Homo sapiens: one gene and its partner. The protein of the gene in region 2 interacts with the protein of the main gene of each other region in a pairwise test. Each region holds a gene or a part of one and is shown on either strand. Other genes may lie near its edges.

Evidence for each region.
Region 1: the proteins of LBP (region 2) and BST1 interact in a two-hybrid assay, tested with the Homo sapiens proteins (one large-scale study listed by BioGRID and IntAct).

The regions. Positions count from the first base shown.
Region 1 is NC_000004.12:15,705,960-15,709,782, forward strand, and holds part of BST1 (ADP-ribosyl cyclase/cyclic ADP-ribose hydrolase 2 precursor), read left to right. Parts: intron 1-1,551; coding exon 1,552-1,687; intron 1,688-3,823. UniProt on the Homo sapiens protein: Catalyzes both the synthesis of cyclic ADP-beta-D-ribose (cADPR) from NAD(+), and its hydrolysis to ADP-D-ribose (ADPR).
Region 2 is NC_000020.11:38,359,781-38,363,603, forward strand, and holds part of LBP (lipopolysaccharide-binding protein precursor), read left to right. Parts: intron 1-923; coding exon 924-987; intron 988-3,823. UniProt on the Homo sapiens protein: Plays a role in the innate immune response. Binds to the lipid A moiety of bacterial lipopolysaccharides (LPS), a glycolipid present in the outer membrane of all Gram-negative bacteria.

The DNA of each region.
Region 1 (3,823 bases), on a different chromosome or scaffold from region 2:
TTCAGCAGAAGGCAAAGTGGGAGCAGGTGTCTTACATGGCACGAGCAGGACCAAGGGCAGAGGGAGGTGCCACAGGCTTGTAAACAACTGGATCTTCTGAGAACTCCCTCAGGAGAACAGCAGCAAAGGGGGAAATCCACCCCCATAATCCAATCACCTCACACCAGGCCCCACCTCCAACATAGGGGATTACAATTTTACAAGAGACACAAATCCAAATCATATCAGTTTCCAATAGTGATTGTAGATCTCCCGCTGGTTGTGGGCAGAAGAAAATTTCCTAAGTTAGCAAGTTAGTGTGAGAATCAACATGAGGACATCAGGACATGGCCATACCTGTCACACTGGGCCTCCACATCTGGCCAGTTCTAAATAACCTTCATCCTAACTGGCCCAATGGCCTGAACCTTGAGTAATTCAGAAAACTCTCAATCTCAGTATCCTCCCGGGAGACCAGTCTCTCCATTTAACGGGTCTTAAGATTATATTTATTTAGTACCAGTTTATTTAAGAAAACCACATATCTATATTCTGTATACACTCTCAGGTCTAATAAAATGAAAATAATGAGAAAATTTCCATAAAACCCTTGCTTAAAACAATACCTCAAGTTTAAGGAATGCTAGACACCATTTTTGTTTCTGTGACATAAACATTGTTAACCTGATTTTTTCCATTGTGTGTTATTTGTAAAGGCAAGTAAATGGAACTGTGAGGTTCAAAGATAGAATAGACTGAAAACATGATTTTTGAGTATATGCTGTCTTTTGAACCTTGCTGCCCTCCTGTCACTAAAAGTGGGGAAGCTGACTTTTTAACCTTCTGTTTCATAGATTCGGTGCTAGTTGATGAACTCAGTAAATACTTCCGGGGCTATTTGTTTGCCAGTCATTGGTGCTAAGGGTTAAGGATGTAACAGTGAAAAACAGCCCTCACCCTTGGGGACCTTCTAGTCTAAATATAAACTGATTGGACTACTGAGGGTCAGATGAAATAGTGACTGGGGGATTTGTGTTATTGTTATATAAAAACACTATGGTGGAAACTATAAAGTATAATATAAAAGCAATGTGTTTTTGAGGCACTTGACACTTTAGGAAGTGCTTTTTGTGACTGCTTATTATCCTGGCCACAGCTCTGGAAGAAGAGAAAGGGCTCATGCTCTGCATTTTCCAGAAGTAGAAACTGAGAAACAGGGAGATTGCATGCCTTGCTCAAGATTACATATCTAATACATGACAGAGCCAGGATTCCAGCCCAGTTCCCTTGATCATTTTTAATGTAGGGGATCTTACCACATGCACGTATATTTAGTACTAGTGAGAAAATATTCCATTAACATTTGCATGATACCCTGGGAATAAAGGGAGGAGAGATGCTAGCAGTCTTTGAATGAATAAATAAAGACAACGAAAAAGAACGTTCAGTTGTTGTGCAGCAGGTCAGAGTTGAATGAGAACTGGATTGCCCAACTTGCCTTGATGATATTGTGCCTGAGGAGTCGGTTTTGATTCTGTTTTGTATTTTGATGTTTTGTTTGTCTTTCCTTAGTCCCTGTTCTGGGAAAATAGCCACCTCCTTGTTAACAGCTTTGCAGACAACACCCGTCGTTTTATGCCCCTGAGCGATGTTCTGTATGGCAGGGTTGCAGATTTCTTGAGCTGGTGTCGACAGAAAAATGACTCTGGTAAGACTCCTGCACAAATCACAGGAGACTTAAGAACTCCTATTTACTATGCATTACCATTTGTGCTAAATGCTTTCATATGCATTTATTTCACTTGATCCTCTCCAAGTCCTCTGAGATAAGTGGCAAGAATAGTTAATAATAACAATACTAGAGAATACTTAACTTTGCAGGTGCCAGTCTAAGCACTCTCTCTCTCTCTCTCTCTCTATATATATATATATATATACACATATATATACACATATATATACATATCTATACATATCTATATCTATATATACACACATACTCATTTGATGCCCACAACAACCTCATGGGATCCTATCATAATCCCCATTTTGATAAATGAGGAAACTGAGGCACAGCAAGATTAAGAAATCTGCTCAGGGGGCATAGCTAGTAAGCAGCAGACAGTCTGACTCCAGAGCCCATTTTCTCAACTTTGCACAACTCTGCCTTACTATCCTCATTTGTCCAGAGGGGGAAGCTGAGGCTTAGGGAGGTTAAATGACTGGAAGTGGTAAGGCTGGGTCTCAGTCCTGTCCTGATGGATTCTGAAGCCTGTGCTCTGTAACACCACTCCAGGCCGCCGGCAGATATTTCGAGATCCAAGTCACAAGGAAAGTTAGAGTCACAAGAGCTGGCCTGAATGTTCTGCAAACACTCCTCATTCATCCAACTGTGGTGCTAGGAGCTGGAGACACAGCAGTCCCCATCTTCAGGGAGGTTATAGCCTCATGGGGGATATCAGCTCGAGTGATATGGGCTATAATGCAGGAAAAATGGTGTTCGAGGAGTAGCAGAGTGAGACACCAGCCTCCACCAGATCATCAGGGAAGCTTCAGAAGGGAGGCTAGCAAGGAAAGGAGGTTAGGGAGTGTTTCCATTATGAAGACTGGAGATCCTTCCTGGGTATCAGAGTTACTTCAAAAGTTAACCTAATATCAGGCCGGGCATGGTAGCTCACGCTTGTAATCCTAGCACTTTGGGAGGCCGAGGTGGGTGGATCATTTGAGGTCACGAGTTCGAGATTAGCCTGGCCAACATGAAGAAATCCAAACTCTACTAAAAATACAAAAAAATTAGCCAGGTATGGTGGTGCATGCCTGTAATCACAGCTACTCGGGAGGCTGAGGCAGGAGAATCCCTCGAACCCTGGAGAAGGAGGTTGCACTGAGGCGAGATCATACCACTGCACTCCAGCCTGGATGACAGAGTGAGACTCGGCACACACAAAAAAAAGAGTTAACCTAATATCAGTTCTGTTTATTTCTCCTCCATTCATTTGTCCATCAAACTAAAATTTATAGTGTCTACTATGTGCCAGACCCTCATCTTCTAGACAGTAGGAAAACAGCAGAGAATAAAACATGAAATTAATACCCCATGCTTACATTATAGGAGGGCAGATAAGACAATAAACAGGCAAGTGAAATATACAGACTGCCTTAAGATTATAAGGGCTATGGAGAAAATTAAAACAGGTAATAAGGACAAAAAAGATTGAGGGTGGAGGGCCAGGGAAAGGAAAGTGTTGCATTTTTACCTAGATGCCGAGGGAAAACCTCACTGATAAGCTGATATTTGAACAAGGACCTGAAGGAGATGAGAAAGAGCATTTTCTGATGGGAGAACAGCAATTGCAAAGGCCCTGAGGTGGGAGCGTGTGTGACATATTTAACAGCAAAGAGGACAGTGGGCAAAGAGGAAAGTGTGAGCTATGAGGCTAGAGGAATAAAGGAGGGCCAGGTGGCACAGGATGTTGTGAGGCCTCTGCTTTTCACTGTGAGTGAGATGGGCAGCATTGCAGGTTCCACGTCAAATGGACACAGCCATTCTTTCAATGGAGAACTTCCAGGAAGCTTTTGTTTGATGATGCTGCAGAGGGTGGGGAGAAGGAGGGGAGGAATGTGATGAAAAACACATAAAGAAAGGGAGAGCCTTCCAGAAAACCACCAGTTATTTCTTCTTCACCTCGCTGCCCTTTTCTATCTATGCCCTCCTATCAGGGCTCTTTGTTTCAGAAAGAAGTGAAGTCCAGCAGTTCAGGTCAGCTAAATAACCATATGTGTATGTCATGGAATCCTGTGGGGCCAGCAGCAATGGTGATGGGGTTTTTTATTTATTGACCCA
Region 2 (3,823 bases):
GCAAGTACAGCCAACAAGTTTGGAAATGCACATTTCCTTCTCTTGAGAAGCAGGCCGCACAACTGGTGGCAATTGTGTGTGAGTAGCCTACAGACCCCAGCATTCAGTCTTCCAGGAGTACCAGCAGGAATGGGGAATACTGATCAGTCCAGCCAATCTGTTCAGGATGACCATTAAGAACTATCTACAGGCCGAATGTGGTGGCTCACGTCTGTAATCCCAGCACTTTGGGAGGCCAAGGCAGGTGGATCGCCTGAGGTCAGGAGTTCAAGACCAGCCTGGCCAACATGGTGAAACCCCGTCTCCACTAAATATATAACAATTAGCTGGGCGTGGTGGCACATGCCTGTGATCCCAGCTACTTGGGAGGCTGAGGCAGGAGAATCGCTTGAACCCAGGAGGCAGAGGTTCACCCAGGAGGGTGAGCCGAGATCGCAACACTGCACTCCAGCCTGGCCAACAGGGCGAGACTCCATCTCAAAAAAAAAAAAAAACAAAAAAACTATCTACATTAACTGTATGTTTATTTGTGTTTATTTCTAGTTAGTGTCTAGTTCTGCTATTAAACTCTAAATTCTGAGAGGCCAGGACCTCCCAAAGGAAAACTTTGTAATGGTGGAGTTTCAGGCACTGTCTCCAGCCAGTGCCCCCTCCTCAGGCTGTGTCAGTGACTCCCTAGCTCAGGTGTCCAGCCCTGGGACAGACTGAAAAGTCCAACTGGACCCTAGTGGAGTCCACATGGGGGCCCACATAGTTTTATTGTTTGTATTTCCTTGGTACCTGGCTCATGACAAGCACTTATAAATATTTGTAAATCAGTGATCACTGAGCACATGTGTGGAATAATGTGACTGCAGTGATCAGCACGGGGCCAGACCAGAGCTGGGGAACTCACTCAGTCATTCTCTTCCCATGTTTTTCAGATTTGCGAAATGATCCAGAAATCAGTGTCCTCCGATCTACAGCCTTATCTCCAAACTCTGCCAGGTAGGACACCCCATCCATCCCGGGACACTTTTATTTCTGTTAATTTCTATAAGAGCATATATATATCTTATAAAATAGTAAATGGGGCAAAAATATAGAAAGTAAAAATTAAGGGCCAGGCGCAGCGGCTCACACCTGTAATCTCAGCAGTCTGGGAGGCCGAGGCGGGTGGATCACCTGAGGTCAGGAGTTCGAGACCAGCCTGGCCAACATGGTGAAACCCTGTCTCTACTAAAAATACAGAATTAGCCGGGCGTGGTGGCGCATGCCTGTAATCCCAGCTACTCGGGAGGCTGAGGCAGGAGAATTGATTGAACCCAGAAGGTGGAGGTTGCAGTGAGCCAAGATCACGCCATTGCACCCTACCCTGGGCAACAAAGACCGAAACTCTGTCTCAACAGAAAAAAAAAAAAAAAGAAAGTAAAAATTAAAAGTTCATTTTTCTCCCCCACTTTTCTTCCAAGAAGTAACTTCTGTTTTGGGTGTATCTTTTCAGATATTTTCTTTGTATGTACAAATATAAATACATGTAAGCATATAAATAGACATTCATGTATGTATTATTTTGTTCATGAATCTATGTGTATATGTATTATTTTAAATATATATGTTCATATACATATAGTATAGGCATTGTTCCAGATTTCTTTTTTTTGAGATGGGGTCTCACTCTGTGTCCCAGGCTGGAGTGCAGTGGTGTGATCTCGGCTCACTGCAGCCTCAAACTCTTGAGCTCAAGTGATCCTCCTGCCTCAGCCACCTGAGTAGCTGGGACTACAGGTGCATGCCACCACACCCGGCTACTTTTTGTATTTTTTGTAGAGACAGGGTTTCTTTATGTTGCCCAGGCTGGTCTCGAACTCCTGGGCTCAAGTGATCTGCCCACCTCAGCCTCCCAAAGTACTGGGATGACAGGCACGAGCCACTGTGCCAGCTTGATTTCATTTTTAAAAACTTTTTATTGAAGTATATTTATAAAGAAAAGTGCTCAAATCATAAGTGTGCTGTTAAAGAGTTTTTACATGCATGTAACCAGCTCCCAACCGAGAAACAGAACACGGCTGGTTTTTCAGAGCCCCTGGTGTCCCCCTCGGTCACTGCCCAGCCCTCCAGGGTCACCACCATCCCAACTTCTACCAGCAAAGATTAGTTTTGCACTTTGCACATGAATGGAATCAGACAATATTTTGAGTCTCTTTTCAAAAGCCAGAAGGCTTTCTTTGTTCAACTTTAAAATATGAGGTCAGGGCTGGGCGCGGTGGCTCACGCCTTTATTTTTTGTTTTCTTTTTTTTTTTTTTTTTTTTTGTGAGACGGAGTCTCGCTCTGTTGCCCAGGCTGGAGTGCAGTGGCGCAATCTCGGCTCACTGCAAGCTTCGCCTCGCGATTTCACGCCATTCTCCTGTCTCAGCCTCGCGAGTAGCTGGGACTACAGGCGCCCGCCACCACGTCTGGCTAATTTTTTTTGTATTTTTAGTAGAGACGGGGTTTCACCATGTTAGCCAGGATGGTCTTGATCTCCTGACCTCGTGATCCGCCCGCTCGGCCTCCCAAAGTGCTGGGATTGCAGGCGTGAGAGCTCACGCCTGTAATCCCAACATTTAGGGAGGCCGAGGCGGGTGGATTACCTGAGGTCAGGAGTTCGAGACCAGCCCAGTCAACATGGTGAAACCCCGTCTCTACTAAAAATACAAAAATTAGCCAGGTGCCGTGGTGGATGCCTGTAATCCCAGCTACTCGGGAGGCTGAGGCAGGAGAATCACTTGAACCTGGGAGGCGGAGTTTGCGGTGAGTTGAGATTGTGCTACTGCACTCCAGCCTGGGCAACAGAACAAGACTCTGTCTCAACAAAGAAAAAAAATAATAAATAATAAATAAACAAAATAAAATATGAGGTCAGGTCAGGCTTGGTGGTGCACACCTATAATCCCAGCACTTTGGGAGGCCAAGGAGGGAGTATCACTTCAGTTCAGGAGTTCAAGGCCAGCCCGGGCAACATAGCGAAACCCCATCTCTACAATAAATACAAAAATTAGCCAGGCATAGTGGTGTGTGCCTGTAGTCCCAGCTACTTGGGAGGCCAAGGTGGGAGGATCGCTTGAGCCCAGGAGGTCAAGGCAGCGGTGGGCTGAAATTGTGCCACTGCACTCCAGCCTGGGCCACAGAGTGAGATCCTATCTCAAAAAGAAATGAAATAAAATAAAACATGAGGTCCATGCATATTGTTGCATGCACCTGTAGTGTAGCTGGTTTATTCTCCTTGCTGCATAGTATATCACCATGTAGATGTTTCCCCATTTATTTGTTCATTCTACTGTTGAAGGCCATCTGGGGGGTGTTCAGTTTTAGGCCATTATCCGTAGTGCTGCTATAAATGTCCTAGTACCTATGGTCGCATGTCTTTGGGTATATATCTGGGAGTGAAATTGCAAGCTCGTCATATCATGTGATATGCCCAGATTCAGCATTATAAGATCCTGCCAAACAGTTTTCCAAAGTGGTTGTAACAGACCTTATTTGTTAACAGCCGTGTAGTGTTCCATCACATGGATGTGTCTTCATTTATTTAATAAGTCCCCCACTGATGGACATTTAGGTGCTTTGCTGTCCCTTGCTATTGCCAACAGGGCTGCAAGGAGCCATCTACAAGTGGAGTCTCTGGATCCAGGGTGCACACATTAAGCTCGGAGGGGGAGACCCTGGCAAATTATCTGAGATGTTCTCTGATGCCTTAGCTCCTAAGCCCCTATGCGGTTATTTGCTGACATCACCTTTACCAGAGGTCCAGGTCGGCAACCCGGTACTGGGACTTGGAACATTCATCCATTCAGGGTTTT